3 linked regions of the Homo sapiens genome follow. The protein of the gene in region 1 interacts with the protein of each later gene in a biochemical or structural test. Each region holds a gene or a part of one and is shown on either strand. Other genes may lie near its edges. The genes, in order: SHH, PTCH1 and HHIP.

What was found.
Region 2: the proteins of SHH (region 1) and PTCH1 are reported together in a solved structure, tested with the Homo sapiens proteins (5 studies listed by BioGRID and IntAct, with this or other methods).
Region 3: the proteins of SHH (region 1) and HHIP form a complex in vitro, tested with the Homo sapiens proteins (one study listed by IntAct).

What each region holds. Positions count from the first base shown.
Region 1 is NC_000007.14:155,809,463-155,817,329, forward strand, and holds the start of SHH (sonic hedgehog protein isoform 1 preproprotein), read right to left. Parts: upstream 3,002-7,867; 5' UTR 2,661-3,001; coding exon 2,361-2,660; intron 1-2,360.
Region 2 is NC_000009.12:95,464,267-95,471,367, forward strand, and holds part of PTCH1 (protein patched homolog 1), read right to left. Parts: intron 5,754-7,101; exon of another isoform or gene 5,666-5,753; coding exon 5,547-5,665; exon of another isoform or gene 4,888-5,546; coding exon 4,485-4,887; exon of another isoform or gene 4,393-4,484; intron 3,181-4,392; exon of another isoform or gene 3,160-3,180; coding exon 2,850-3,159; exon of another isoform or gene 2,663-2,849; intron 1-2,662.
Region 3 is NC_000004.12:144,641,078-144,649,166, forward strand, and holds the start of HHIP (hedgehog-interacting protein precursor), read left to right. Parts: upstream 1-5,078; 5' UTR 5,079-5,598; coding exon 5,599-5,877; intron 5,878-8,089. UniProt on the Homo sapiens protein: Modulates hedgehog signaling in several cell types including brain and lung through direct interaction with members of the hedgehog family.

The sequences.
Region 1 (7,867 bases):
CCATCCCTTCCTCCCCCACCCTTAACTCCTGGAATCGGGAGAAGGAAGGTAGGGGAGGGATCAACCGGGGATACCTCACAGACTGCCAGCCCCTACCCCCCTCGGTTTTAGGGGACCTTTGTGGGGTCTGCCTGATAATCCCGGCCTGGCTCTCCTCACCCAACCCCCACTTGGGCCGTCCTTCCCCCTCCTTTTGTGTTGGGAACGGGAATAGCCACTGCCCAAGGAAAAAAGTATTTGTTTTCGTTTCGTTCGTCTGAGGGAAGTTGACAGAAGGTCAGAAGTTCAAATGCTGCCTGTGCGCGCGGCGGCGAGAGTGGCCGGGCGCGGGGCCGCTGGGCCCTGCGTCCCCCGGCAGGGCGGACGGGGGTCGGGGGGAGGCCCCCGGGCTGGGGGCTCCGGCTGGGACGCGGAGGCCTAGAGGCCAGGCAGGCGGCGGACTGGGGATGGGGGCGCGTCCCAGGGCAGGCCGGCGGAGCCCGCGATGCGCCCCGGCCCCTGCGCGGGCGCCCCCATCTCCGCGCCCCCGCCGCCGGGGACACTACAGCGAGCCCGGCGCTGCTGTTAGCTCCTGCGGTGCCTGCGCTCCCGCGCGTGGAGCAGCAGAGCCCGGCGGCTCCAGCCCAGCCCCTCGCGCACTGAAACCCTAGCCGCGGGGGATCGATAACCCGGGAGTAAGTGGGGCTGCAGGCGTCTGCCTCGCTGCGCGGCTCTGTGCGCTTGCAGCTTTGCAGCAGGGCTGCAAGGCCCAAGCCCTGGGAAGGTGTGCGAGCCCAGGACCCCTTCTGCGGTATTGGCCTCCCGCAGAGCAGGGCAGAAGCTGACCCACTCTGGCTCTGGGACCTCGGGTATCCACGCCCCCGCCGCTCTCTCCGCAGTGCCTCCCTCCTCTCGGGTTCCGAGGGACCCTGGCAAGGCCCCTCCTCCGCGGGGAGTGAGGGTGACGAGAGGATGGGCGCCTCGGGCTAGCCGGAGAACTCCCTCCAGCCAGCTGCACGCAACGGGCACCCCATGGCCCGTGCAGAGTTAATTGTGGATCGCGCTGCTGTCTGGCACTGGCGCGCGCGTCCACACTCGCGGTCCAGATTTAAGGTGGTCGGGAGCAGATGAGGGAGAGCAAGGAAATCAGGACCATTTCCCATTCCTCTCCCTTCCGACAGCTGGAGCAGGCTACCTTGCCTGCCCCTCGCCTTTCTCGGCCTCAAGCAAGCCTGGGAATCGGGTCGGGAAGCAGGGCGGCACGGAGGTAGCTCCTCTCTCTCTGCCGTCAGTACCCTCCCCCTGCACTTGCGCCCCACCAGCGCCACTCCATCAGCCGCTGTACGCACCTAGCCCTAAAGGTAGGACTTGAATATTTTAATAGGGCAATAAAAAGGATGTTGACCTATATTTGCAAGGAAACCCATTTCTGGCTTCAGTTATACGTGCATGGAGTTTCAGAAAGTCTAGAATTGGCTGGGAGATTGGCAGCTCAGAAATCTCAAAGGAGGTGGGGAGAGAGAGAGGAATTCATATTTTGCTTAGCTTCCCCTCCCCCCACACTAATATTTATTCGCTCTTAATTCTTATGCAAGCAGGTTGAAAACTAAAGTGATGCAATGCCAATAAGTTCTAAGTCCCTCCCCTAAGGTACCTCGGGCTTGGAAGAACGAAAGAGCATCCTTAAAGAAATATCAATACATTCACACTCTGATGGGCACAATTGCGGACACGCAATCGCAAAGCCAGCTCTGCGATACAGCCAGCCACCCAGGGACGGGCGGAGTCTCCCCTGGAGCCCCTGCCTTTTGTCAGAACCGCCTCCTGGCTTTTCCAGTTGAGAATTCTTTGGTGGGGAGGTGCAGGGTGGGGGTAGTGGTGGGAAAGAAAACCACAGAGGCAACGGGAAACGTGGGGGCTCTGAGCTCCAATGCCCAAGGCTACGTTCGTTCGTTCGTACAGTACCAGGAGACCACTTCATGTTTGTGGGAGGGGGATTCCCAGCCTCTCCTTCCATTTCCACTCCTGACTTGGAAAGGGCCGACGCCCCCAAAGTGAAGGTCTCCCCAAGTTACAAGCCAGGGCAGAGGTAGGATGGGGAAGGCCATTGTAGCAAGACTCATCAAATCAGGGCCATAATGAACCACGTCTGTTACCGTCCTCACCCCCACCACACCCTAAACTTCTCCAGCTGGACCCTTGACCTCCATTCTCCTCCAGGAAGAGGAAGAGATGGGGGGCGGGCAGGTGGGTGGGGAAGGAGCGGGTGAAATCACCTTCCTATCTGCCCGAAGAGCAAACAGAGTTAAGTCTGGAAGTGTTCGGCTTCTCGTAACCCCCTGGAAAGCCACACATTCCACGCCCCGGCGCTGGGTTCCTACCTGAGTCATCAGCCTGTCCGCTCCGGTGTTTTCTTCATCCTTAAATATGATGTCGGGGTTGTAATTGGGGGTGAGTTCCTTAAATCGCTCGGAGTTTCTGGAGATCTTCCCTTCATACCTTCCGCTGGCGCCTAGGGTCTTCTCGGCCACATTGGGGATAAACTGCTTGTAGGCTAAAGGGGTCAGCTTTTTGGGGTGCCTCCTCTTCCCGAACCCCCTGCCCGGTCCGCACGCCAGTCCCGAGCATACCAGCAGCGAGGAGACGAGGACTAGCAGCAGACATCTCGCCAGCAGCAGCATCTCGCCCATGGAACTGATGACTTCCGAGCTGTCCCCGTGCGGGTCCGTGCGCGAGTGCGCGCGGCGGGTGTGTGCGTGTGCGCTCTCTCTTGCGCTTTCCCTTCCTCGCTCCGGCTCGCCCGCTCGCTCTCTCCCTCGCTGGCTGCCTCGCTCTTTCTCTTCCTATATAACCTTGCCCGCCGCGGCTGCGGGGGACTCTCCACCGCTCCCCACCCAGACAGGGGCTGGAATGGCAGGCTGCCGGCCGCTGATAACGGAACACATCGGAGTTGGGTCGCGAGACAGCAATCAAAAGACAAAAAGAGTCTGATTTTAAATGGTAGCAAGCCTGGAGAGCTTGTGAGAGAGGCTGCCTTTAGCACTATATTATAGCTGCCAGGGGCGCATCTGATTGGCCAAAGCCGCACAAGCTTGTCTTCTGATGTTAACCCTGAAGAAGACTACGTTTTTTTTTTCTGTTGCTGCTGTTGCTTTATTTTCACCTGAAGGATTCGAGTTAAAAAAAAAAAAATCTTTCCTAAGATAAAGGTGGGCGGGAGGGAGGAGCGCATGTCTTGTGGTAACAGCAGTTACTCCCGGCTTTGTGTACATCCTTGCGTTTCCCCCTGACTTTCCCTGGAATGGTAGGTGCTTCAGTTAAAACCAACTTAAGTTTTTAAAGGACAGTTTAAACCCCCGCAAGCTTCAGTCATCAAGCACAGAGTCGCTCACACATTTGAGGGGCACAGCTGCCCAGCTGTTATTTAATTTTTCTTCCCCAGGGACTTTATAGTGCAGGCTGGCTCTCCCTGCATTTTGAAGAAAGAGGACTGAGCCCCTCCTGAAGACTCAGCCTCTGTGGACCGAGGATAATTATGAGTGACCATAACTTAAAGCACTGGTATTTGAAATGCTTTAAGTGCCTTAGAAAAATGTAAAAATACTGCTCTTTTATTGTGCTTCAATTAATACATTTTTTTTTTTGTAGAGCTCTGCAAATGGGATGGAGGCGTGCTCAAGGGCAGTTACAGAGTGAACTGCGGGCGTCAGGGTGGATGGGCAAAGCAGGTCTGGGGGCTGCACCCCAGCACAGGGGAGAGAGTGGGGGCCAGTGTGTGCGCTGGGTGTGTGGAGGCCATTGCAGGGTGTTGGGGGGGGGGCAGGCGAGTGGGCGAAGCTGTGCTCACACAACCCCCACGATCGATCAGAGCAAAGTGCAGAGCCAGGGGTGAGCTGAATGTGGAATTCAGGCTCCTTGCAAAGCTGGCCTTGTGTGGGGGCTCAGCAGGCCAGCAGTCTTCAGGCACAGGAGCCACCAGTCCTAGGGGCTGCAGCCCAAGGGGTCAGGGGCCCTGGGGGAACAGTGTTCTGGTTAACGAGGGGCTTCCTAGAAAGAGGGCACAGTGCCCAGGAGGTGGCAATCTTTGAGTCTATAATCACCTCACTTTTTGCAGAAAAAGGAAAAAAACTCAAAAGTCCTAAGTAAACCAGGAAAATAAAATTTGAAGCTCCCTCTCAACCCTGCTTTTCTTTTTTTTTTTAAAAAAAAAAAAACAGATCATGCCCTTCCCCTTCTCAATCGCCATCCCACTCATGTGCAATGATTCCTCTAGCATAGGATTAGAGAGTGAGGGTTATTTACGTGGAGGGGAAATCCTGACCCTGAGGAGTCATCAGATGCTGCAAATGTGGCCCTGTGAAGTTAAACACTCTCCCTTGACCCCGGGCCCTTGGAGTGGAGGGGGAGAGGACCCCTGTGAAGCTCAGCCCTCAAACGATGGAAGTTTCCAGAAGTTCCCTTTGCAGATCAACTTTTTGTGTGTGTGGTGGGGGAGAGAAGGAGAGGAGCATCTTAGGACACATCTGTCTTGGGCATGAGAGGCTGAGCGTTAACAAGACTCGGTGGCCTGGGTGCCTTTGGGGAGGTTGACCCGGGCTCCCCTTCCCGCCTCTCTTTCTTGTTCCTTTCCATGGTTTGTGACGAATCGTGATCCCTGGAGGAGAGCACCGTGGGGGAGCAGCGTCCACTTGACCAGGCCCCGGCAGCCTCCACTGAGCGGAGCTGGAGCTCAGCTGAGCCCAGGGATTCTCCAGGCGGTGTGTCTGCGCTGCCTGTCCCGTTCCCAGTAAAAACAGACACAAAACAGGACCCGTGTTCTCTCCAGAGGAGGCCGGCCTGTTTGATGTGTCTACCTGCACAGCATGTGGATGTCACATCACTGGGTGGTGCCTGGGCTGGACCAGCGACCTGGCCCAGTGGGACATTTGCAAACTTTTGACTGCCCTGCCTTCCACCCTTGGCATCTCCTCTTGCCCCAGTCCCTCCTCCTCCCCCTGTCTTTCCCCGCTACTTACTCCCTTCCAAATGCAGGCAGAAGGCCCCCCACACGGGTTGCCACCCTGGGGCCTGAGAGATTGGGTGTGCAGCCCTGCCGGGAGGTGGCATGTGCACACAGCTCACCTCTGCAAGGGGCAGGGTGGGTGGGGTGTGCTTTTGGAAGCAAAAGCCTGAGCTGCACAGAGTTCCTTGTGGGCACAGCTGGACGTGGGGTGCCCCCAGGTGCGGTCAGCTCCCTCTTAGCAGAGCGCAGGGAGAAGACGTGGCTTGGCATTGAGCTTGGGTGACTCAGGGCATTTCCTGAAACCTCCCTGCCCTAAGGGATGGCGTGAGGCCCCCTCCCTCCCCTCCATCTCCAGACAGCCCTAGACACCCTGGAGAGCACCTCAGGGGCCGCCCCCCTTGTAGACTGGCCGATCCTCCAGAGTGAAATAATGATGGGCCAGAAAGCCTGCCCCCACGCCTAAGTTCAGAGGGCCTGCCCCCTGCATGGGTTGAGGGGAGCTCGGCGCAGAAAGCAATCCCAGTTATAGACCAGGCTGCTGACTGAGCCCCCCAGAGAAGCTGCTGCTCTGCCCTCCCGCCCTTCACTCCCTGTCCTTCCATCCCACCTGCTCCCCACGGCCCAGCACTGCCTTCCCCTCCAGAGGCCAGGTGGCTCTATCTCTTTGCCTTCCCCCCCCCCCCCAGACCATTTGGCCCCCTCCCCGCACCAGCAGAGGCTCCAAACACCAGCCTCCCTGACAAGGCCAGACATCCGGACATGCTGGGGCTCCGTTATTCATCTACCTGGGCTCTGCCTCTCTTCCTTGGGGTCACGCGCATCCCTCCCTCGCTCCTTCCTCCAGCTTTCCCTCCCCCACCCTCCCCCACCTCCACCCCTTGCCCAGCATCCCTGCTGAGGACAGAAGCTGCCTCCTCTTCTGCCCCAGCCCCCAGGCTCCCTCCTGGGCACTGCCCCTGCCCCTCCTTCCGGCCCCTGCCGCTAGATGGCCTCCTCACTCTGCCTTCGGCTCGGGCTTGGCCGGTTTGGGAAATCCCCGCAGTCCCAGGTCGGGAGGCCCGGAAGCCAGGCAGCCTCCTTCGTTCATCCTCCCCTGGTCCCGTCAGCAGTTTCTGCGCCCCCCTCATCCCCTCTTTCCTTTCCCAGATTTGTACCCGCTGGGCTCTGCAGTTATGGAGCCCGCCTGCCTGGCATCTCCAGGTGCTGCCTCTGTTTCTAGTCTCTGGGGTTGGCCTCTAATCTTTCATGTCCTTCTCCCCTTTGATTTTTCTTCCTTATAGTAATTCCACGCAATCTCTTTCCATCCAGCCATCCAGTCTCCACTTCTTTCTGGATTTTCCCTGTTTTGGCCGGTGGAACTTCTGCACTCCAGTTCTCTTGTGATTGCATCCAGGGCCTTTTGAATTTGGGAGGGATTCTGCACCTTAGCCCCCTTTCCCTAACTCCATGGTCCTCCCCATCCCCGGGCCCTGGGGATGTGAGTCTCCAGCTTCCTGGAGGGCTCAGGCTCTGGATAGCCCAGGAAATCCAGCCACACTCTGCACAGCACCCTGATTGTGGCCTGGCTGCAGGTGGATTGAGGCAATGCTGTCCTCTCCGTGCCAAAGCCCAGGAGCTTTGGGGTGGCTGCAGGGCTCTCTGGACTCCTGCAGCCACATCCTCATGGCACCAGCGCTGAGGGCAGGCCCGCTGGGAGGCAGCTGCCAAGACACACAGGGCCTCGGGGGACCATGGCTGGCATGTGGAGCCAGCTACGCTGGGTGCCCACTGTGCAGCGTTTCTCAGTAGTGCTGTGCAGCGGGCACGGGGCCACCCCCAAGCTGCCACAGGCCCCATGACTGTGGGTGCAGCCTGGCTTCTTCCCGGCCTGGGCCACTCTGTGAAGCAGGGTGCAGGAGACACTTTGGTGACTGGGATTCCTGCCCTCATGCCTGTCCGCCTGCACACCAAGCCCCGTGGAGCCCCGTGGAGCCCCGTGGAGCCCCGTGGAGACCCGGCTCACATGCATGAAGGCTGCAGGCTCTGAGAGATGAGGACCCTGCAGTTTCTGGGGACGCTGGAAAGATCACACAGCCAGCTCTGTCGAAGTAGACATCCTAAGGCAGGCGATCAGCTCGGATGTGAACGTGCAGCCTGAACTATGTTGCTGTGTGCCTTTGAGCTGATTTTCTCTCTTTAGACCATTGCCTGCCTTTGTTGAGTCACTTCGTCTTCATTTTAAGTAATGGACACCTCTTCTTAGGTCTAAATAATGCCTCAGGTGTGTGCCTCTGTACAGTTTCAAAGTGCTCTAGCACCGTTGTCAGGGGAGCCTGAAGCTACATTTGGGAGTTGGAAAGGGAGGCACAGTGTGGGCAGGTGGCCTCGTGCCCAGGGAGGAAGGGACCCTGCGTCTGCATGCTGCTCCTTGCACCCCAGCTACCTAGAGATCCTTCCACAAGACCATCATTGCTTCCATCTTGGAGCCTAGTTAAGAGGCAGGTGCCCCAGACAGTTAATGCATTAAACCCTTGCGCACATGGGCCTCACCTGGGGGCTGAGAAAAAGCCGACAGGCCGCGCTGAGGCCTCACTCCCGAGCACTCAAATCAGAATTTCTCCTTTGCTGACTTCCCTGATGGGGATCCCAAAACCCAGGAGCGAACGTGGGAGGGGGAGATGTGGGTGCAACTGCCAGCTCCAAGCCCCCTGCTGCTCCCCCAGCCCGCGGACACTCCCCAGCCTCCGGATGCTCCGTCTGCTTGGCCCCCCAGCCCCTGGACGCTCCCCAGTCCTGCTTGATGCCTGTGTGCCTTGGGTCCCGTCTGCCCGGCTGGGCCTGGCATGGAGCTGCACGCAGAACTTCAGACAGCAGCGGGTGTGCATGTGTGAGCTTTAGATTCTTTCT
Region 2 (7,101 bases), on another chromosome or scaffold:
CAAGGTACGACCCTGGATACAAAACAAGGGATAAGGTTGGGTTTCCACTGCCCTTTAGCCAGTGCTTCATATTCCAATGCATGCACACTCTAGAAAATTGTGACTTTTTACTTATTTTACAGCAAACCTTAATATCTTAGCTAGAAGTTCTCCTCTTATGAATATTTTGTGTCAATAATTATTTTCTAATGTAAAGTTCTAGGCCAAAGGAATAACCCCAATTGCCCATTTTCCTTCAGCTATGGGACCCTAGAAGTAAAATGTTAATCAAAATTTTGTTTGCATAATCCAGTGTGAAATAAAAATGAACACATTTGTACATGACTCGAGGCATGGTTTTTATCTGACTCTGCCTTATTTGCATGTATGTTTTAAGATGTGACATGTGGGATAGTTTTGAAATTAACCATTATATAGTTTTAGGAGTAAAAAAAATCAAAGACAAACTATTGTAATGTCGATAAAGACCAATGAGATGACATAGTTTTAATGGGAATTCCATTAAAAACCAATGAGGCTCCCACCATTTAAAAGCCACACAAAAATGTCAGCAAGGAAAGCTGACTCAAGGATAATTGTTTCCTTGTAGAAAATGTTCAAACACCACATCAACCATTCAACAGGCCTGAAAAACGTGTAGGCAGCAAAGGGCTCCAGTGTCTGGTCATTCTGTGTTGAGTGCTCTAGCGGACCCTGTAAGAGTCAGTCATGGAGTCCCAGGGCTGCCTGGGACCCTGATTGCTTAGCACCAATGGATCTCACTTGGTCTAGGTGTATGCTGTTCACACAGCAATCAAAACATGATTCAAATGCACCTTAAAAAAAAAAACTCAACTCCAGCTGATTTACATCTATAAAGGAAGAAACGTATAGAGATGATCTACAATGCTCTATAAAAAGGTTAACCCTTTGCACTGCCTCGAGACAATCCCCCTTTACCCCCTTCCCAATCCCTGCCTAACATGCCACATTGAGCCTCCAGAGCAATGGCCAAAGACACTGAAATACACTCTACAATAACCCTTCTCTGCTCACAGACTGGCAGGGCACAGCAGATCTCTTTGTCATTTGTGGCAAGTTATTTATATGTCTTTGGTCAATGGGGGGAAAATGAAAGCAGGGACTCTCTCCACTGTCTCTCTTTTAACTCATTATCCCAAAAACCATTGCTTTCTAAACTAAATGTGAAAAATAAAACTTGGAACAAATTCACGTTCGTCTCAGGAGGGTGTTAATAAATAATAATCATGGCATGTTCTCTGTACCTTCCTCCAAAAGGAAAGTCAAATTGGGTGTACATGTAGACACAAAGTTCTGGTAAACACAAGTCAAGGCCAGAAGCTGTATGGAACCATCCTCTACCAACCTCAAGTTGTTGACCATTTCCTGCAAACTCTCAGGGAAACTGGCTGCTGAGTCTTTACATACAAGTGTATTGACTTCAGACCAAAAAAGGCACTTACATCTGTGTTTAAACAAGCCTAATTAAGTGGGAAATTAAGACAATCATTTGGATAATCCAAGCCAAAAAATGTTGGGGGCCATAATGATTTGGTACTCCAGTAAAAGTGTTTTGCTTGAATTGGGTGGATAATTATCCTGATTCTCTACTTGGCTTTGCATGTGTCAATGCAGAATAAATGAACAGATGTTCCTGGAATCACTGCATACATTTACGTGCAGTCGGTCAGGAGAAAATTTAGACTTTTTTTTCCCCTCCAGCTGATGAATATTTCCTAGAAACATTTCTAAGAGTGAAGAAGCCAATAAAGGCACTGTTATTTATTTATTATTTTTGGAGATGGAGTCTCGCTCTTGTCGCCCAGGCTGGAATGCAATGGCACAATCTAGGCTCACCGCAACCTCCACCTCCCAGGTTCAAGCGATTCTCCTGCCTCAGTTTCCTGAGTAGCTGGAATTACAGGCACCCACCAGCACGCCCAGCTAATTTTTGTATTTTTAGTAGAGAGCTGGTTTCACTAGTAGGCCAGGCTGGTCTCGAACTCCTGACCTCAGGTGATCTGCCCGCCTTGGCATCCCAAAGTGCTGGGATTACAGGCGTGAGCCACTGTGCCCCACCAAGAAAGGCATTTTAAAACAGAATTTAATTATTTATAAAATAATGTGAAATGTTACTAAGCATTTATAACTTTACTTCAAGTACCAAATCAAAAAATGGTCAAAATGAACCCAACCGTAAACTATGGAGCCTGGGTAATAATGTGCAGGTTCATCAGCTGTAACAAATGCATCCCTCTGGTGCGGGATGTTTACAGTCGAGGGGGCTGTGTGTGGGTGAGGAAGGGGGATATGGGCCATCTCAGCACCTTCTGCTCAATTTTCCTGGGAACCTAAAACTGCTCTAAAAACAAAGTCAATTAGAAATAGATAATTTTTAAAGAGATGGTCAAAATATGGAGTGTAAGACTATGTCCACTGCTTATCTAGCATCTCCTGGTGCAGTAAGCTATAATTTGGCAATCAGTCTGGAAATCCCAGCCGCACTTTGATTTTATGTGGTCACCAAACTAGCCACCGTCTATCCAAGAGGAAAGAGCACCAGAAGCCTCGGCTCCACCTGTTACAACATGCTCCCCTTTTCCTGACGTGCACTTGTACATTCTCACAGAAGCTCATCTGAATTATCTGCATCATTTTATAGGTAAAAGCCAGATCTGGGAGGCTGCTGCAGAAACAGTTCATGTAAGAATCTTGAGCAACTCTTAAAAGTCCATGAAACACGTCAGTGTTACATTCTAATCTAACGCTCTCATAATCATGACAAAGGAACCTGTTGAAGCTGAACACGCAAAAGACCGAAAGGACGAGAGCCTCCCACGCCGTCTTACCCTGAAGCCAGTCTCTGAAGTAGTGCAGCCACATTTTGGGAAGCTGTTTGTTTTCTTCCAACATGACATACTTCACGTTACTGAAACTCCTGTGTAGGTCGTAAAGTAAGTGCTGGATATTCGGGTAGTCTGCTTTCTGGGTGACTATATACATGTTGTAGAAAGAAAAGTATTTGAATTGTGCAGCAATAAAGTCATATTCTCTGGTTTCCCGAGGTACAATGTCCGTAAGGTCCAGCCCGTCTCTCACTCGGGTGGTGCCATAAAGGCTGACCCCCAGCAAGCCCAGAAAAAGGAAGATCACCACTACCTGGAACAGAAGAGGCACAAGGTCAGACCCCAGGGAGCACCACTGACTCTTCCTGGACAAAGAGAAGCTGTCTAGTTAATACCTTGTTTTCACCACCACACTTAAACTGATTTATCTTGTAGGGGTTGTTCTCCCATAGGAAAAAGGATAAAATCATAGTAATCGCATTTTTATTTTGTTTTGTTTTATATATAATTTTTTGAGACAGTCTTGTGTTGCCAAGGCTGGAGTGCAGTGGTGCCATCTCGGCTCACTGTAACCTCCACCTCCCAGGTTCAAGCAATTCTCGTGCCTCAGCCTCCCAAGTAGCTGGGATTACAGGTGTGCACCACCACGCCTGGCTATTTTTTTTTGTATTTTTAGTAGAGACAGGGTTTCACCATGTTGGCCAGGCTGGTCTTGAACTCCTGACCTCAGGTGATCCACCCACCTCGGCCTCCCCAAGTGCTGGGATTACAGGCGTGAGCCACCATGCCCAGCCTTGTTTTGTTATGTATCTGAGTTGGGATCTCACTCTGTCTCCCAGGATGGAGTGCAGTGGCATGATCAGGGCTCACTGTTGCCTCCAACTCCTGGGCTCAAATGATCCTCCTGTCTCAGCTGCCCAAGTAGCTAGGACTACAGGTACACAGCACCATGCCTTTTTTCCCCCTCTCTTTTGAGACAGGGTCTTACTCTGTCACCCAGGCTTGAATGAAGTGGCACCATCACGGCTCACTGTAGCCTCGACTCCCTGGGCTCAGTGACCCTCCCACCTCAGCCTCCTAAGCAGCTGGGACTATAGGCACATCACCATGCCCAGGCAATTTTTTGTAGAGATGGAGTTTCATCATGTTGCCTGGGCTGTTCTCGAACTCCTGGGTTCAAGCAATCCGCTGGCCTTGGCCTCCCAGAGTGCTGGGATTACAGGCGTGAGCCACCACACCTGTCCCTGGCTAATTTTTAAAATATTTTGTAGAGACAGGGTTGGCCTTTGTTGCCTAGGCTGTTCTCGAACTCCTGGCTCAAACAATCCTCCTACCTCAGCCTCCCAAAGCGCTGGGTTAACAGGCATGAGCCACCGCAAGTGGCAATAATCACATTTTTAAACAACCTCATTCATAAAAAGACTTGCTGCATAGAGGTTCACTCCCATGGAAGATGACCTCATTAAAATGGCCCTATGCTCTAAAAGCATTGACTTTTGGAGGACTGAAATGTATCATACTTAAACGAAATTTTTTTTTTTTTAAGGAAAAAGAAGAAAAGTAGAAGCAATCTGATGAACTCCAAAGGTTCTGTTATTTTTTTGAAGACAGGAAGAGCCTTAAGTTGTGGCAGATTACCTTGGCTTTTGGTTTCAAGAGGAAAGGAGCATAGTGCTTCTCAGCAAAAGATGAGAGTGTCCACTTCGTACAGGGGGGCTCGAGGCAGTGGAGGCTGGAGTCGGAGAACTGGGAGAGCAGGTCCCTTGTGGAGCTGGTGCTCTCTGGGCTCTGGCAGCTGAGGGTGTCCTGTGTCACGGTGACGGGCTGCACAGAGATCTCGGAGCGCGGCTCAGCGGTGGTGTAGTACACGTGCGTGTGGGGGTCGTACTCCGTGCGGAGCTGGACAGTGGACTGCATGGTAATCTGCGTTTCATGGGCAAAGCTGTGGCTGCTGTAGGGAGGTGGGGGGCTGTAGCGGGTATTGTCGTGTGTGTCGGTGTAGGCCTGAGGTTCAACCTGAATCACTCTGCTGACGCAGGGGCTGAAAGGAGGGGAAACATGTTGCAATGTTATGCTGAAACAGGGAAATGGTGCTTTCATTCTGCCATTTTTCACTGTGTACGGAGAATACCCATTTTACACAGCTCTGACTTAGGAGAGAAACATCACATTGCTGAATTCCAGAAACATCGCCTGGTTGATAACATCACCTGGTTCATCGCCTGGTGAACTAGATAAAAGTCAGTCTGAGGAGGCCACATGGAGGACTGATCCTAAATTTGGCTTTCAAAAGCAAGTTCCATGATGATGAATCCTTCAAAGCACAATTCCAAACAAAACCAAACCACCATCAAAGGACTATATATTTTCTAGATGGGTGTTTTTCAATCTTGTTCTGCTCTAATGCAGAGATATGAAACATTCCTACAATCGGCAACATCAGTTCATGATGGAAAAAGGGGTCATCGGAACCAGCATCTTGAGGGCTGTGAGACTGTTCAGCTGCGGCAGGGGAGAAGGAAGCCCAGGGACTCTGATGTCCCCCTAGGGAAGCAGCCTCTGTCCAATCTCTCCCCTACGTTCTCCACACCAGCACAAACCCCGTTACCCACATTCCTTTATAAGTCCACAGGCTGAAAGAGTTCTCTCACAGCACCATTCTGCACCCAATCAAAAGGCCACAGCAGTCTGAAAATGTACCTTGTAAAACAGCAGAAAATATCCAGTCTCCTGTCCTCGCGTCGATATAAATCCATGCTGAGAATTGCAGGAAAAATGAGCAGAACCATGGCAAAATTGAACACCACTACTACCGCTGCCTGGGAGCAGAAAAAAAATTCAGAGGTCACCAACATGCCTCCGCCCAATCAGAGGACTGCTTCGAAAATAAAGATGCTTTTAAACAATATTTTTCTTTCCCTTTCCTCTTGAAGCATTTGAAACCGTGACAGATGTTAAGAGTTTCTTTTGCTACATCATCAAGAGCCTATTTGATAGGAATAGTCTTGACTGTTTCTGGGCCTTTCTATCTCTAATAATTCCATAAACCGATAAGGCACAAACCTGGGAACTAAACTACTAACGTGTTGCTAGTAACCTAACCAAACCAAATCCACAAAGGCAGAACAGAGAGCACACTCGAGATAGAATTTAAAACAAACAGAAGCAGTTCCCTTCCAGAATGCTTCCAAGAGGTCACGCGACCCTGATTTTACAGTTAAACATTTTTATATAAAGTGGATCGAGTATATCAAAATGTCCCCCTTTAAAACGTGAAATACAATTTCACACGTGTCCCCTGAGGTTTTAATAGGCACATTCCAAATTGCCTCTGGAGTAGCCTGTGGGGTGTGAGAGCAAGAAACATAAAAGGTCAAGGAGAGTTAAGCAGAAAGAAATTCCTGTGTGTGATTATAGTACGCAGAATAAATAAGTACAGATTCAAAAGTCACTCCATAACCTAGAATAAACACAGGGCTAAATTCTGCAGTGCGTTGGCAAATCTTCTGCTGACCTAGTAAAAATTACAAAATTGGGCTGTTAATAGGGGAAGCCAACAGAAGCCGGTGGAAGTCGACCCAGCTCGGAAGGGCACGGCAGAAGGGGCACCACAGAGAAAAGCACTGGCAATGCTGAGGAGCCAGGAAATTGCCAGACATGGCTTTGAAAATAAAAAACGAGGCCAGGCGCGGTGGCTCACGCCTATAATCCCAGCACTTTGCGAGGCTGAGGTGGGTGGATCACGGGGTCAGGGATCTCCTGATCAAGACTATCCTGGCTAACACGGTGAAACCCCGTCTCTACTAAAAACACACAAAAAATTAGTTGAGTGTGGTGGCACATGCCTGTAGTCCCAGCTACTTGGGAGGCTGAGGCAGGAGAATTGCTTGAACCTGGGAGATGGAGGTTGCAGTGAGCCAAGATTGCACCACTGCACTCCAGCCTGGGTGACAGAGTGAGAGTCTGTCTCAAAAAAAAAAAAGAAAGAAAGAAAGAAAGAAAATAAAAAACGAGGCTTCTCAAAGAACTGCTTAGTTCACAAATCTCAAACTGATAAACGTCCTAGGGTGAGGAAAGAAAACCTGGCTATAACTGCCACCTAACACAATCCAGGGAGAACTTCCACAAAGGGCTTTGGATGGGAATTGTGAGTTTATGCTGAAGGTGAACCAGCAAGCCTGAGTTCCGGAGAGATGTCTTCCAATAATTAATTCCCTCTCAAGAGCGTTCTTCTAAAAACTACCTAACCTCTTTC
Region 3 (8,089 bases), on another chromosome or scaffold:
TGAAAATAGCTAGCATGGTTTATTTCTGACAAAGGCCCCTGATTGAAAACCATCTCATTCCGAATTAAGAGTCTAAATCCATAACATACCTTATAAGATCCCATGCAATGTGGACCCTGGCTATTTCTCTGCCCTTGTTTCTTGTATCTGCCCAAATATTGCCCCAGTAAACACTTTTCCTGACAATGTATACAAAATTATTATTTCTCCCAACCCCTGCAATCTTTCCCCATGCTCCCTTTTCTCTGCAGCATTCCTCCCCATCTGGTATACTCTATATCGTTACCCGTCTTCCCCATTACAATATGAGTTCCATGAAAAAAGTTTTGTTCACTGCTGTGTTCCTAGGGTCCAGAGCAGGCTCTGGCACACAGTAGGTGCTGACTTTTGAAAGAAAGACTAACTGTAGAAAAAATCCTAGAAGCAGCCCTACCATTGTGTCCATTTACCTGAATTATAACCAATCTTTAATTTTTAAAGGCTGTGTATTTATTGCCTCGCTTTGCTGGCCGTCCTTCCTCTGTGGAATCACACTTTAGTAGAAAGGTCAGCTGCACTTCCTTAGTGATGGTGCACTTTAAATTGTGTGCTTTCTTCTATTTCAAAATTTACTTTTTGAGACAGGGTCTTGTTCTGTCACCCAGGCTGGAGTGCAGTGCAATCATAGCTCACTGCATGCAGCCTTGATCTCCTGGGCTCAAGTGATCCCCCCACCTCAGCTTCCCAAGTGGTTGGGACTACAGGTGTGCTCCACCATGCCCGGATAATTTTTCTAATTTTTTTAGAGATGGAGTCTCACTATGTTGCCCAGGTTGGTCTCGAACTCTGGGGCTCAATCAATCCTCCTACCTTGGACTCCCCAGTTGCTGGGATTACAGGGGCAAGCCACTGTGCCTGGCCCAATTTAAAGTTTTTATAATGCAAATATGAGCTCCATTTTAAACCTTTAAAAATTATCAACTCAATCAAGATCAGCCACTCAGCAGCATTTATTGAGAGGCCGGTTGCTCTACTATGAGTCTAAACTAAACTATGTTGGCGTCTCCAAAGAAGGAAATGCAATTCCTGCCCTTCTGGAGATTATAATCTCATGAATATTCAACTTGCACATATAAAAACATCTCAGGTATTTACCAATGATGCACAAAAGAAAATAAATAAAATGTATCTATATGCTTTTTAGATGAAGTGCAATGCTTGAAAGGCCATTCAAACTAGAATAATTCTTAGAAGAGGTTGCTGTTAAGCCAGAATTTAAAGAAAGAGACAAAGATGGATAAGTATAAGGTAGGAAAGAAAGAGCACTTGCAAAAACAAAAGGAAATGACAAATACATGGCACTAACTTAATTAGTTACCTGGAGTGTATAAACTAAAAATCTACGAATTTGGCCTCTAGCCTTTCCATTCTGAGTTATCTATTCTGCACTTCTCCTCAAATGTATCAAATTATATTCTGAACTCAAAAGATCCTATACTTTAAACAGTGGTTGGAGTCACTTCGTACTCCTTCCAAGTCATCCTAAGTCTCAACTGAAATGTCATTTTCCCAGAGAAGTTTTTTCCAGTCACTTAATCTGAAATAGGTGTGCTTTGTTATTCTGTACCTTAGCATTTCTTTCATACCTTTTACCACAATTTATAACTGTAATTTTATTTGTGACCTTATCATTTGTCTTCTATACTAGATTATTAACTACCTAGAAGCAGGGTGTTTGCATTATTTTTCAGTACTATATACATACTGTTTAGCACGGTGCCTGACACTTAATATATATTTGTTGAAATGGAATTAAATAGTACATATTTCTGTGAAGGCCAGAAATCCATACATAAAACTGATTCCAAAACTCAAAATAATTTTATTTCAAACACTTAACAAAGTTAAATTGTCCTCACTTCTGATACACAAAAATGTATATTCATATAACTCTCTTGATATATACATATACATACAAACATAATTCACATACATGGTAATATTCTGACCTTTACCTCTGAAATTAATTTCAATTTGTGTCATATATTTCATTTTTTACAATAAACTAAATACGTTCATAAAAATAATTAATTCTTCTAAAGTAGGGAATATAACCCTGGATAGGACCAGGGTATGAGGGTGGGATGGTCCGAGCTGGTGCCAGCTCATACAAGATGCATTGGTGCACATTTTAAAAAGGACCCACATCCTCTGGGTAGACACAGACACACAACAACATAAGCTCTGCTTGGTGAATGGAGCCTGGGCAGGACTTCAGCTCCCACTTTATGTGCTCTTGCACAGGGCATGACCTATGCATAGGTGGCAGTCCTGGAGAGGGTTGCTCAGTGGTGGTGTGAGCAGAAGATGTGATCTAGCCACCCTTGGGCTGTTCCACTCCTTGCTGGAAAGGGCCGATTTGATTTGTCTGGATTATTTTGGTCAACAAGGGGTCCCTTCTTCTTTTCACCACTCTGTCGGTTTAGCTGAAGAGGAAGACCTCTCCAATGAAAGAGGACCATTTTTCACGTTCAAGTGTATGCATGGCTATCCTCTGCTTCTTCAGCCTCCAAGGGGGCTTTTAAGGTTTAATCTAAAGAAATAACCCTGTATTGATTCTTGATTCCTAAGAAATTATGCTGTCAGTCTGGTTGTAGGCAAGGGTTGCAATTTTCCCTCTGGAAAAAACAAATCAGAAGTTAGTCCATTTGTATAACACTGCTTAGTAACTGTTTAGAAATTATATCAGTAACACTAAGAATAAGCTCAAGCTATCTCCTAAGTGACCCAATTTATTGACTTTCAGGACAAACAGTATATGAAATCAATTCTAATTTCCATATATCAAGAAATAACAAGCATGTCTTATTTCAGTAATCTTTTATAAACTTTCTATATCTTAGGGTCGTAGGTTATAACAGATGCATAGTATTTTAAAACCAAAATAAATTTACCTTTAAGTGGCCTTAGTATAAGCCATAAGAAAGGCCTGTTTCAAAACTACTAACAGGAATTTATCAGAGTAGGAGCTCAAACTACTGAAATACGATTTTAGAAGGACTTTTATTTTGGAAAAAGAATATAAAACTGGAATTTGGGAAGAAAGGGTTAGATAGTGGAAAGCACCCCAGATTGGATCCGAGTCCTTATTCTCAAACTACCTAATGAGATGAAATTGTGCAAGTGATTTAAATTTGATGAGATTCATCTGGAGATCTATTAATGAGTTTAAAGTCTTAAAGTGCTTACTGCTTTCTGATTAATTTTATATTAAAAGTCCTCAAAGCAGAAAGAATGTCAGATAAAAAAAAGTATGTGAGATCCAAAGTGGACTTACAATCACATGCATGAAGAAGTCATGTGTATACAACAGCCCCTGGGGAAAATGTTAAATATGTCATGGGGGCTCTACATTTAGCTGAGGACTGGGCCAAACATCCTAGCAGATTCTTTTCAGTTATTCTGATGTGTCATCTCTTTGGGGAAAAACCTAACTTCACTAATATCCAGGCTCAGGAAGTGAAAAAGACAGAAGCCTTACCTAGCCACTGTGACCAGAAGTGATTAATTTAATCAACTGCCCACCTCAACCATCACCAACTTTTGCAATCACTTGGCGAAATCAATGTCCAACAAGTGAAGCAAACCCAAATGTGGTGAACATTCCTCCATTGCCAAAATGGGACAACTGCCTTATCTCCTCATCAAAGCCCATCTTCTGGGAAATCAGCTTCTCTGTTAAATACCCAAGTGGGCTAGAAGCGCATTTTGTGGGCAACCCTATAGAAGCTCGTCCTGATGCCAACTTGCAGGGATCCAGTAAACCTCAAGTCACCGCTCCTGATAACGTAGACATCTTTTTAGACACACTATTTACACAGACTTTGTCTAGCTGGGGAAAAGGTTAATTTACTTGTATACACGGGGATAAGTAGAGCACAGCGCTTCTGGATGCCCTCAGACTTGCATCTAATTCTTTCTCCAGATCTAACGCCTCTGTTTCTACACCCAGGGGAACCTCTCCCCAGGGACTGCGCGCGCGTGCGTGCAGGTGTGTGTGTGTGTGTGTGTGTGTGTGTGTTTGTGTGTGTTAAAACGAACACTAATTCCGCGCCCAGCTTCTCTCTCCGTCCACCTGCGGCCCAAGAACTTGTGTTCCCAGATGGTACCAGCGGGGCCCGGCTTATTCCCGAACACATGTGGGGACCTGAAAGGGGCGTCGGGGACTAACCCGCCCAAACCGTGGCAAACACTCTGGGAGGCCGACTTGGGCTTGGCCTGTGGCCCGACACACCGCCCCACTCCGCGCACACGCGTCTGTGCCACTTCAGTGGCTTGCAGGACCTCCGGCGAGGATGAGTCTCCAAACCATCTCAGCCTACTCAACGGCATCTGGGATGTCCCCCTGCCTCTAAGTCAGACCCCAAGAAAGATCTTTGAGGACTTGAGCTTCACGTTGAAAATCAGTGTGGAAAATGGGGGTGTCAGTGCGGCTGGGGGAGACAAAGGGGCCCAAAAGCTCCCTCCCGTCCGCTCCAGCCCACTTAGTTCACCCTCCCACGGGGCGAGGGGCGGGCCGGGGGGCTGAGGTGGGGATGGCCCTGGAAGGGGTCCCTCCCTTCCCACCTCCTACGGCCCACTCTTACTTACTTTCTTTCGGAGCCTCAGCTTGGCCGCCTTTAGCCCAGGCAGTGCGGAGGGGAAGCGGGGAGGAGAGAGGAGCCTGCGGGCTGCAGCAGCCGGGCAGTCCCGGAATCTCCGGACTGCGTCCCTGCCCCAAGCCCGCCGGGAACCCGGGCCGTGGACGCCCCCACCCGGGGGCCGCGGCGAGGCGGGCGCGCGGGGTTCAGCACCCTCGAGGCTGGTTCCGAAGGCTCGCGGCCCTCCCCCTCCGTCCGCCGCCGTCGCGGCTAGCCGCCCCTCCCCGCCGCAGCAGGGAGGCCGCCGGGGCCCGGGGGACGCGCTCGCGCGGGGGCCGCCCCCTCCCCTTCCCTCCACCCTGGGCGGGGGCGCGCGAGAAGCGGTGACGTCAAGGGGCGCGCTGTGGCAGCACCTCCCCGCGCGCTAGTTAAAAAGAAGAAGAAAAGAGGGAACGAAACATGAGAGGCTGTGTGAGAAGCTGCAGCCGCCGGCAGAGGAGACCTCAGCATCATCTAGAGCCCAGCGCTGGCCCTGCCTCCGCCTGCCCCGCCGCCGCCGTCGCCGTTTCTGTTCCTGCTACTGTCCCACCTAAACAACTCCCGTTACACGGACAAGTGAACATCTGTGGCTGTCCTCTCCTTTTCTTCCTCCTCTTCCAACTCCTTCTCCTCCTCCCACTTCCCAGCCGCAGCAGAAAGCCCCCAACCCAACTGACACTGGCACAACTGCAAACGGTGTCATCCGCACAACTTTATCTCGCTCCTCGGGCTCCCCTAAGGCATTGGACCCATCGCCGCGTCTTTTATTTTTTGCAAAGTTGCATCGCTGTACATATTTTTGTCCCCGCCACCTCCCTCTGTCTCTGGAGTGCCCTACAGCCCCGCAAACTCCTCCTGGAGCTGCGCCCTAGTGCCCCTGCTGGGCAGTGGCGTTCCCCCCCATCCTCCCGCGCCCAGCCCCTGCTGCTCTGGGCAGACGATGCTGAAGATGCTCTCCTTTAAGCTGCTGCTGCTGGCCGTGGCTCTGGGCTTCTTTGAAGGAGATGCTAAGTTTGGGGAAAGAAACGAAGGGAGCGGAGCAAGGAGGAGAAGGTGCCTGAATGGGAACCCCCCGAAGCGCCTGAAAAGGAGAGACAGGAGGATGATGTCCCAGCTGGAGCTGCTGAGTGGGGGAGAGATGCTGTGCGGTGGCTTCTACCCTCGGCTGTCCTGCTGCCTGCGGAGTGACAGCCCGGGGCTAGGGCGCCTGGAGAATAAGGTAGGCACTCACCGGCTTCACGGATGCGTACTTGGCATATTGGCTGGGTGGGGTTCCCTGTGGCTCTGGCAAAGCCGGTGGTTGTAAGAAGGTCAAAACTTCTTTGGGGGAGTTCTTTCCATAACTTTTCTATAGCGCTAACGTGATTCCGTTGTGTGTTCCTCTGGGGTAAGCAAGTAGCATTTCCTCCCCCAGAGTCCGCGGTCGGGATGCTGTGCAAACTTGCCTATCTCTGAAAACAGACGTTTCTGCGGTACCCGCACCCTGGGCTGGGTAAATATTTTAAAAGAATCGCGATGAACAGTGTGTTTTGGATCGAATGGGGCATTGGCTGCGGTGAAACTGTAAATTAAGGTGGCTGTGGTTTCCGGCTTATTTTTCTAGGGTAAAAAGATTTGTGCTGTTTTCTCCACGTGCTCGGTTAGGGAGAGGATTGAATCGTAAAGGATGTTGAAGCATGGTTGGTTTATGATCCCCAGCCCCGTCAGAGGGGGGTGTCTTGCATTACATTAGTTAAACCAACAGAAAGGAACTCCTGGTCCTCCGGTTAGGGACCTGAAAAAAACTGGCGAAAGATTTTGCTGGGGCGTTATTTATCACATAAAACTGAGACGATTCTCCGTCATTTTGTAACATTATAAATTCAGACTTTCAGGGTCAGTTGGTGTCTTGGAAGATCTACTCTAAGAATTTGTTTTAAGAGTAATGGCATTTACGTTATCCTTGTGTTAATAAGTTTAAATACTAACATGGTGTTTGTTGACTGTAAAGGCACGCTTGTTTTTGAGTTTGCAATATCGTTCTTGCCAGGAGATGCAGTCATGGGTGGTATCTACTGTACTCCAAGGAATCATTGCTGGCTCACATCATTAACAATCACTGCACGTGAAATAAACAATCAGGTGTCTTTGCTCCCCCTCCCTTTCCCCATTTTAGGTTTAATTAAGAATTCCTCTGTTAGAACACTGCCAGTTGTCAAGGTCTGAGAGACTCTTGGAAAACTTGTGCTTCAGTCTTGCTGGCCCAGGCATAATAAAAAAAAAAAATACCCAGGCTGAATCTAATTTTTATGCTCAGTTCACGGTAGATTTCACTCTATTCTCATGTAAACAGCTCCTACGAATCAACATATGTGTCTGGGTGGTATCTCTCACTTTGTTTTGTAACAAAAAGCCATATTGCATCATTTAATTTGCTCAAGTCATGCAAATAGGAAAAAATCAATAGGACAAAAAGGGGTCGACTTATCCTCCTCCCCACTAAACTGCTGCCCACACACAGAGTCCTGTTGCTTATGGCAAAAGAATAACAACAACACCATTGTATTTGTTAGTTGGTTCACTAATGGGTGAAACTAGAGAACATCATTCTCTTTCAGTCCCCAGCTCTGTCCAAATGTTCATGCCTTTTGAGGGAGCATTTGTCCAACTCCTTCTATTCCCAGATGAGTGAGAACTGTCTTGCTGCAGGTTTTCAGCTGCAACTCTCTTTTTATTCTTACCATATGCAGCAGGAGCCTGAGATTCAGGGAACAGATATTCCAGGATTTTATTCAAAGCAATGTCTTTAAGCTCCTGTGTTGCAACTGAATTAAGTTTCAAAATAGCTATATTCAGGTCACCTTAAAGGTTTTATCAGGAGCCCTAAAGAACCAGGAAATTCAGAGAAAAGTTTAGAAATATTTGCCATTAAGTCTCCCTTGGTGCAATACGTACTATGAATATACTGATGATCTAGAGACCCCTGCAATACTCAACTCTTCCAGAGACATGTGGAATGAAAATTTTGTTCTTGACTAAATGGTGAGGAGAAGGGGAAGGGGGATGGGACCAAGGGGAGTTATAGCCCTTAAGAGAAGTTATATAAAAATTTTTTTAAAGAAATCATTCTTTAGGAAGCAATCTGCCATGTTAACTATATACATTCCTTTCTGTTTTATGTGCTTCCAATCTCCAACAAACCCCTACTCATTTGGAAAGTGTGTCTGAATTAAGTTTGGTACACTAGACTTTTGCTGGTTCTATTACAAGAGGTTTATAAATCAACAATACCCAAATTGTTCAAAACAGAGATTTGCTATAGCTATGCATATGCATTCTTGACCTATGTTAGTTTTCAAGTTTTAATAGTTTTTAAAACATGTTATTTTATAATAAACTTCAGTGTTTCCCTTTTTCCCGTAAGCCTTCCTGGATTATAATATATGTTAGGA